Linked DNA regions of Homo sapiens. The protein of the gene in region 1 interacts with the protein of each later gene in a pairwise test. Each region holds a gene or a part of one and is shown on either strand. Other genes may lie near its edges.

Evidence for each region.
Region 2: the proteins of RIGI (region 1) and STAT1 interact in binary tests that used the Homo sapiens proteins (3 or more experiments, as listed by UniProt).

What each region holds. Positions count from the first base shown.
Region 1 is NC_000009.12:32,516,041-32,519,870, reverse strand, and holds part of RIGI (antiviral innate immune response receptor RIG-I), read left to right. Parts: intron 1-3,830.
Region 2 is NC_000002.12:190,997,131-191,000,960, reverse strand, and holds part of STAT1 (signal transducer and activator of transcription 1-alpha/beta), read left to right. Parts: intron 1-1,256; coding exon 1,257-1,335; intron 1,336-2,652; coding exon 2,653-2,744; intron 2,745-2,953; coding exon 2,954-3,105; intron 3,106-3,830. UniProt on the Homo sapiens protein: Signal transducer and transcription activator that mediates cellular responses to interferons (IFNs), cytokine KITLG/SCF and other cytokines and other growth factors.

The DNA.
Region 1 (3,830 bases):
ACATGTGAAGGCCCATCAGTGATAAATGGCTTAGGATAAAAAAAACACTAGAAAGTCTTATAATTTTTTTTATGACTTAATCCAAGTAAATGTTATTTAATCTTAATAATAGTAAACACAACTAAATTAGTTTGAGAGAAAGCCCAATCAATATAATTTCCTTAAAGACAAAGCCAATTTTTTTCTGAATATTAAGACTTTGTACCCATATAGCAGTTTTGCCTCATTAAAGGAAAAGATCTGAAACCGCTATTGTTTATTGAATTGAATTACCTTGGAAATAAACACCACTTAAACATTTCTCTCACCTACTTTTCCAAATAACCAATAATAATGTACTATTTCTGTTCAGAACTTAGAAGAATAAACCTTTTATTATTTTTTGCCAGGAATCTTAAAGTTCTTATAGCTCTCTAGTTCATTAGAGGTAAGCAAAACCAAACAAATTTTAAAGGCTGGTGTCCACCAACAATTTTTGGAAGCTTGAAAAAGGTAGCTTAGGAACTTTGGATAAGTAGAGCAAATGATGAGATACTGGAAATGCATAGGAAACAAAATGATTATTCATGGAACCAAATAAAAGCCTTCCTTACATTAGAAACTAAAAGCCATCAATGGTTTTATTAATATGTATATATAAGTAAAACCTAAAGAAGAAGAAACAGCAAATAAATGCAAATTAAAAGAAAAAACAAACAGGAAACCAACCTGAAAATTTTCTACTCAGTTTAACTTGGAGGCTATAGTGTTACCCAGAGCCAAAAAAACACATGATGAATATTTTGTTCCTGATGCACAATTTAATGTCTTTAAGTTCACCAATACCACTATATATTTTGTGCAATTAAGAAATTCACTTTAGGCTGGGCGTGGTGGCTCAGGCCTGTAATCTCAGCACTTTGGGAGGCCAAGATGGGTGAATCACTTGAGGCCAGGAGTTTGAGACCAGCCTGGCCAACATGGTAAAACCCCATCTCTACTAAAAATACAAAAATTGGCCAGGCATGATGGCACACAACTATAATCCCAGCTACTCTGGAGGAGGCCGACCAGTAAGTATTATACTGTAATGATAGTATATCTATGCAGAAGAGCAAATACAGTGTGAAGCAATGCAAGCATGTAGGTGAAATTTGGTTGTTGCTATATCTGGCTTTTATCTGGCTTCATGGTTAACTATATTAAGAAAGGATTGCCAAACTGCCAATGTGTTTCTTTACAATATTTCTTATTTTACTTTCATCAAGACTAAGAGCTTTAACTATGAGCAGTGTTAATTAGCCAGATTTCTCCAATATTCTATCTGGTTTTAAGAGAATATTATTTAAGCCTTTTATACTTTGTATTTTCTCTGTCTGTACATAAAGGTAGACACACAAAGAAATAGGAAAGAAACTACATGACTTACACACACCATCTATGATATGCTTAGACTTTCTGATTTGTCCTGGATTTTCGTTCTTTTTCTTCTTCTTTTTTTTTTTTTAAACAGTCATTTTACTTTAGGACAAAAAAAATACCATTATAAGATGCTTTGTCATACAAAATTATTTTCTTTATAACCTTCCTTACCAAAAATACATCTTTATACTCATAACTTTCTCCACATCTCTCTCGTCTACTTGTTCTTTTCTACCTTGTTTCATAAGTAACCTTTCAAGTCCATAATTATTAATAAACTTTAGATAACTTCTGAGTTAGATAAAATTTTTTTCTGAATAAAAACACATTGTCTTTTGCACATTTTATATATAGAATTACATATGAACTAGAATTCTTATCCTTAGTAACAACCTTAAATTTCAGTAAAAACCTAGGAAGCAAGAAATCTTGAGCTGCCTAGCAGATATTAGTATTTTATAGATGAGAACCATTCCACAATTTTTAGAAACATGTTCCCCACATCATAACCTTTTCTTAATTGGAAATGACTCAAACATCCAATGATTATATTTCCGATTATGCCAAAAGTTCATTTACAGCATTTGACCATTTACATTTTATTTATTTTTAGCAGTTTATCTAGATTATTTCTGCATCATTTCCTTCTTAACCATTTTATAACCTGTGAATGTCAGGTGTTCACCTAAATAACCTTAAAATTAATACGTGGGCATTTTGATCAATAACTCAGAAGATTCAGCTGTTTTCATTAAACTAACAGCATTAAATTAGTCTTATAAAGAATTCACACAAATATTCACTGGGTTTATAGCTTTATAACCTGCTGCCAAACTCTGATACCTCAAATTATCTAGCTGAGACAAATATAAAGCCGAGACAAAAATGTATGCTGACAATTCTGAAGACATTTCTATTTTTATTTTACCAATAATTTTAAAGACAGCTTGTTTATTAAAGATTTACTGAAGTCATGTGAACTTGAAAAACACTTTGGACTTAATTTATGAGCACTCTTATTTATAAGCCAATTTGGTAGGTATAGTGTATAACATAGTTAATGTACATCTAGATAAACACATCTAAACATGTATACACACACAAAGATCCAACAGCTTTTACCTTGGAACTCTAGCCATGAGATAGCAATACAAACTCACGAATCTACAACCAAGTCCACATGGCTAAAATTTGTTTGCTCCAATCGGTAATCCAATGAAGGCTGTGAACCAGAATTTTGGGTAAAGCAGTTTCCATGGCAGTTTGATTTTTAGAAGCTAGATTCCAAAGAAACCTGGGGCCAAACAGCACTACAGAAGAACGTCATGTGGAAACTACTCACCAGGCCCAACCCTGCTTAAAACAGCGGCATAAAAGCCAGAATACATGGGACTCCACCTGGCTTTCCCATTCAACAGCCAACTCCAGATTCCAAAGAATATTGGGGCAAACGTAGTACAAAAGAATATTTGTTTGTTGAATTCTAATTTCCCATTACTATATTGACACATACAATCAACAAAACACAATCCGACTGCTGAAGCAATAGACAAGCCCGAACAGTGTCCAAACTGAAACAGTCGAGGTGCTTTTCTCTCTCAATCGGGCTTTATTAACCTGCAAACAGAAATTTCTTAGGAATTTTCCAAATTGAGAGAAGCCGATCCCACTGTCTGGTACCCAAAAAAGACACTAACTTGGCCAGACACAAACACAGAAATTACAAACACGCTCTCTAGAGTATCATACTGAGAGTCAGGGTGCTTCCCTTTCTTAGTCAGTTGGGCTGGTTTAACCTGCAAATGGAAGCTCCTTTTAAAATTTTCAAATTGAGCAGATCTTGCTGTCTGGGCCAAGAAAGGACACTCACTTATCCAGATGCCAGTGTCACATTTCAAAGGCTGTTCTTCCTAGCAATCAGGAACTCAGCTGGGGCTGGCAGCAGCAGGGCCAGAGAGACCAAAACTCACTTCCAGCCAAAATTGGGTGGGCAGTTGCTTAGGAGGGCTTCTGAGACTCCTAGACCACAGCAACCCAGCCACAAAAATCTGTTACTGAAGCACCAGGGGTTTGGCCTAGGTCCTCCTGGTAGCCACACAGAAAGCCAAACAGGGAGACAACAAGTATTGCCAGGGAAGAAGCCTTTAATTGGGAGCTGTAGCCAAGAAGATGAGAGATTAGTCTCAACTCCATCTCCCTGACCCACTAAAATTAGGGGTTTATATAGCAGGGAAGAAATGTAACTGTGTGGGAAAACAGGAACTCAGGAAGCAATCATGATGAATGAGGGGCCTGGCCTCATTGTCTGGATGTGATAATCTGGTGAATTTCAGTTTGATACTTTTTGAGAGGCCTGGTGGTCTTTTGCCTGAGAAAGGATCTCAGATAAAACAAGTGTAAGCTTCAAGTTTAAAGACCAGAAGGGTCAA
Region 2 (3,830 bases), on another chromosome or scaffold:
GAAGAAAAATTTTGCAGAAGTCTCAAGCTATAAGTAAACAAATTGGCAAAATCAATGACCAGATAGACTTTTTGAATGGCCTCTTATAACTGCCAAACATTGAGTTTAGCTTTTTCTTCCCTGAAAGATCATGCAGTAAATGTTGACTTTGCCCAGTACCCAGTAAATGAGATGTTGCTGCTCTAAATGGGCCTTTATGTCCACACCTCTCAAATCACAGTGCCCCAGGATAAACATGGCCCATCCTTCCCAGTCATCTGTTTTATCCTAAGACTTGGAAGAGGAACAAAAATACATTTTATTGAAAGAAATTTGGATACATTTCTGATTAAGACATCCACAGCAATTTTAGGATACAACTTCCAAGTCAATTTATGGAAGCAGAGGGCTGCTCTGGCGTCCTCGATGGTGCGCATTTACTCCTCTCCACTGTTAGGGCTGGTGTGGGGAGGGTTTGAGGAGTTCTTTTTCACAGAGGCCTGTGTTTGTGGAAAAGGCCTTCCAGCTTAGGGGTTTGGTCCTCTGTGGATCTCTGGGTAATAGCAGTATGGCCTTGACTTACATGCTTCAGACAGCATCTTTCCAAACTCCACATTCTTTGGAGCAACTTCATCTTGCGGTCTCCTAGGGAAACATTTCATTAAAGTAGAAACCGAGTGAGCCCAGTCCAGAAATAGCCATGGAAATCCAGAGAAGAATATGTGGAAATGTGACCAAATCCCAAACAAATGAGGCTTATTTGTAGAATGAACATACAATTTATTGTCCAGATGGAGATGCATTTGAGCCGCCAAGAGGGCACTGTTTATAATTACAGCAAGTATGAAACCAGGTCTATCCCGGTAAAGCAGGGATGTATGGTCACTTTTCTTACTTGGAAGGAATGAGGAAATTTTCTGTGAGCTTTTTCCCCGCCTGCTGTGGGCTTCACAGTGGAGTTCTTAAATCATATCTCAGAGGTAGTCTCAAAAATGATGAGGAAGAATCAAAATTTAGGCGCTGGAACCAGGTTAAGGACATACAAATCAGTTTGAGAATTATTGTACGTTTGCTTTTTTAAAAATGTTATGACATACTTATTAATGAAACCGAAATTATTTCATGTATATGATTAGAACTGTCCAAGTCAGATCTCTTTTTGGGGGAGATGGAATTGTTTTCGTGTTTCTCTGGGTTCCATAGAAGCAATACTCTGTTGCCTAAAGTCTTTGGAAGTTGCTGATCAGTAGAAAACATGTTTACATCTTTGTTTGTAGTGTATAGAGCATGAAATCAAGAGCCTGGAAGATTTACAAGATGAATATGACTTCAAATGCAAAACCTTGCAGAACAGAGGTAAGGGTTCACAACTGAAGTGGTGCCCGTTGGCTGCAATTTTTTCTGTTCACACTAGATAACGAAGATGATTACTCCTTTCTATTTGCCGAGTATTTTATGACTCTGAATTCTTCCTTGATAACCCAGGCCAGGGCTTCTCAACATCCAATATTATTGACATTTCGGGCTAATTTGTTGTTGGGGCTGTCCTGGCATTGTAGCGTGTTTAACAGCATCCCCGACTTTTACCCACCAGATGCCAGTAGCACTACCCAGGAGCCCTCACTAGTGACAACCAAAACTGTCTCCAGAGATTGCCAAAAGTCCCCTAGGGGTCAGTGACCCCTACTTGATAACCACTGGTTATGTGTTACTCACCATATTTATTGCGCCTAGCCCACTGACTGACACAGAGCGATAGATATGTGGAGTTCCCCTGCCCTAATATCTCAGGTTTCTTCAAACGTTGCAGGGCCACGTGTATACACAGCAGATAAGCTCAGTATTTTTCTCATGTTTTAAAGCAGTTTTACTGTATTTTCTTACTGTTGCGTGTTTTTAATGAGAGTAGCAACAGAAAAGATCTCAAGAATGTACATTGTGTAGGACACGTAGGGTACTGCTGTTACTCTATTCATCATCTGGGGTATACCATGGTTCATAGGCAGAGATTATCAGTATGATTTGGGTAGAAAGTATAAGAGACAGCAACTTCAACTACCACTTCCTACTCATCTACTTCTCTTTGAAAGCTACAGCTATGCTTTGTATACATTTTTTATCTGAATTCTGTTCAGATAAAACATTTTATTATTTACATTTATTTTTATAATAATAATAACATTATTATTAATGTTATTTACATTTATTTAGGTAATTACCTGACAGTGTCTTAAGTGGCAGATACTACTATGTCTGATTTACATGGGTCACTGAAAACAAGTTTTTTTTGTTTTTTTTTTGTTTTTTTTGTTTTTTTTTGGAGACGGAGTCTCGCTCTGTCGCCCAGGCTAGAGTGCAGTGGCGAGATCTCGGCTCACTCCAAGCTCCGCCTCCCGGGTTCATGCTGTTCTCCTGCCTCAGCCTCCCGAGTAGCTGGGACTACAGGCGTCTGCCACTGCGCCCGGCTAATTTTTGAAAACAAGTATTTTGTTTCAGTGTGTCTAGTTGTTATACTTAGGACTTTTTTTCATGTTCATTAAAGATCGAAGAAAGCCAAACTTTGACCTGTCACTAGGCAGCATTTGTGTCATATTTATCCTAAATTTATATGAATCTTGGCTTTTGTTGGTTTTGTCTTCTTTATATATTTACTGGCTGTCTCTCAATTTATAGAACACGAGACCAATGGTGTGGCAAAGAGTGATCAGAAACAAGAACAGCTGTTACTCAAGAAGATGTATTTAATGCTTGACAATAAGAGAAAGGTAGTTATTTACTTTCCAGAATAGCATGCCACTTTTGTTATACACTGTAAATAATGGACTCAAAGTTTAGAAGAGAGGAAAAATTATAGCCACCTGGCTTAGAGCCCCAGTTGAGAATGAAATGATATTTGCTTTTCTTTTAAAAAATATTTTAAAATTCAGTGATTAAAAATGAATTTATTTCACTTTGTTTCTTCTATTGCCTTTAGGAAGTAGTTCACAAAATAATAGAGTTGCTGAATGTCACTGAACTTACCCAGAATGCCCTGATTAATGATGAACTAGTGGAGTGGAAGCGGAGACAGCAGAGCGCCTGTATTGGGGGGCCGCCCAATGCTTGCTTGGATCAGCTGCAGAACTGGTAAGATTCTCCAAAGCAGAAAACTGGCAGCTGACTGGCTAACCACATAAACACATAAATGTACCTTTGAGCTGTGTTAGTTGAATGGACCCTGTCAAAACATTAGTATAGAGTTTGACATAGTCCAGCTTCTGCTTACCCTGGAAACACTCCCTTGGAAAGCACAGTGTTATTCATGACTCTCGCCACGTTCAGCCACGTCTGCTTGGTTTGGAGCACTCCTGTACCATGGGGTGTCGTTTGACTGTACAAAACATCAGTGACATGGTCGTTATAGAACACATTTAATGACTTGACTCTTAATGTTTCCTTAAAAACAAGATAGCTTGAGGCATTTTTCTAGGCTTACAGAATAGTTTTTTAGGAAACATTCAGTCATCCATCCAGTAATACTTATTAAATGCCTACTGTGTGCCGGGCACTGTAGGACCTGGGCACACAAGGATGAGTGATTCTTGGCCCTTGCCAACAAGGAGTTCTCAGTGTGGAGGGGGGGATGTAGACATGGTAATAATTCGTGTGGTAAAAGTATCCAGGTGCTCTAGCAAAAGGCCATCAGAATTCTGTGGAGGACAAAGGAAAGCATCTCCAGGGAAGGTTTCATAGAGGAAGTGGCCTTGTGCTGACTCAAAAGTCACTAGGATTACTCCACGTAGATCAAGGGGAAGTGCTTTCCAGCACAGAGCACAGCGTGTGCAAAGGCACACATGTGGGAGACTGCAGGG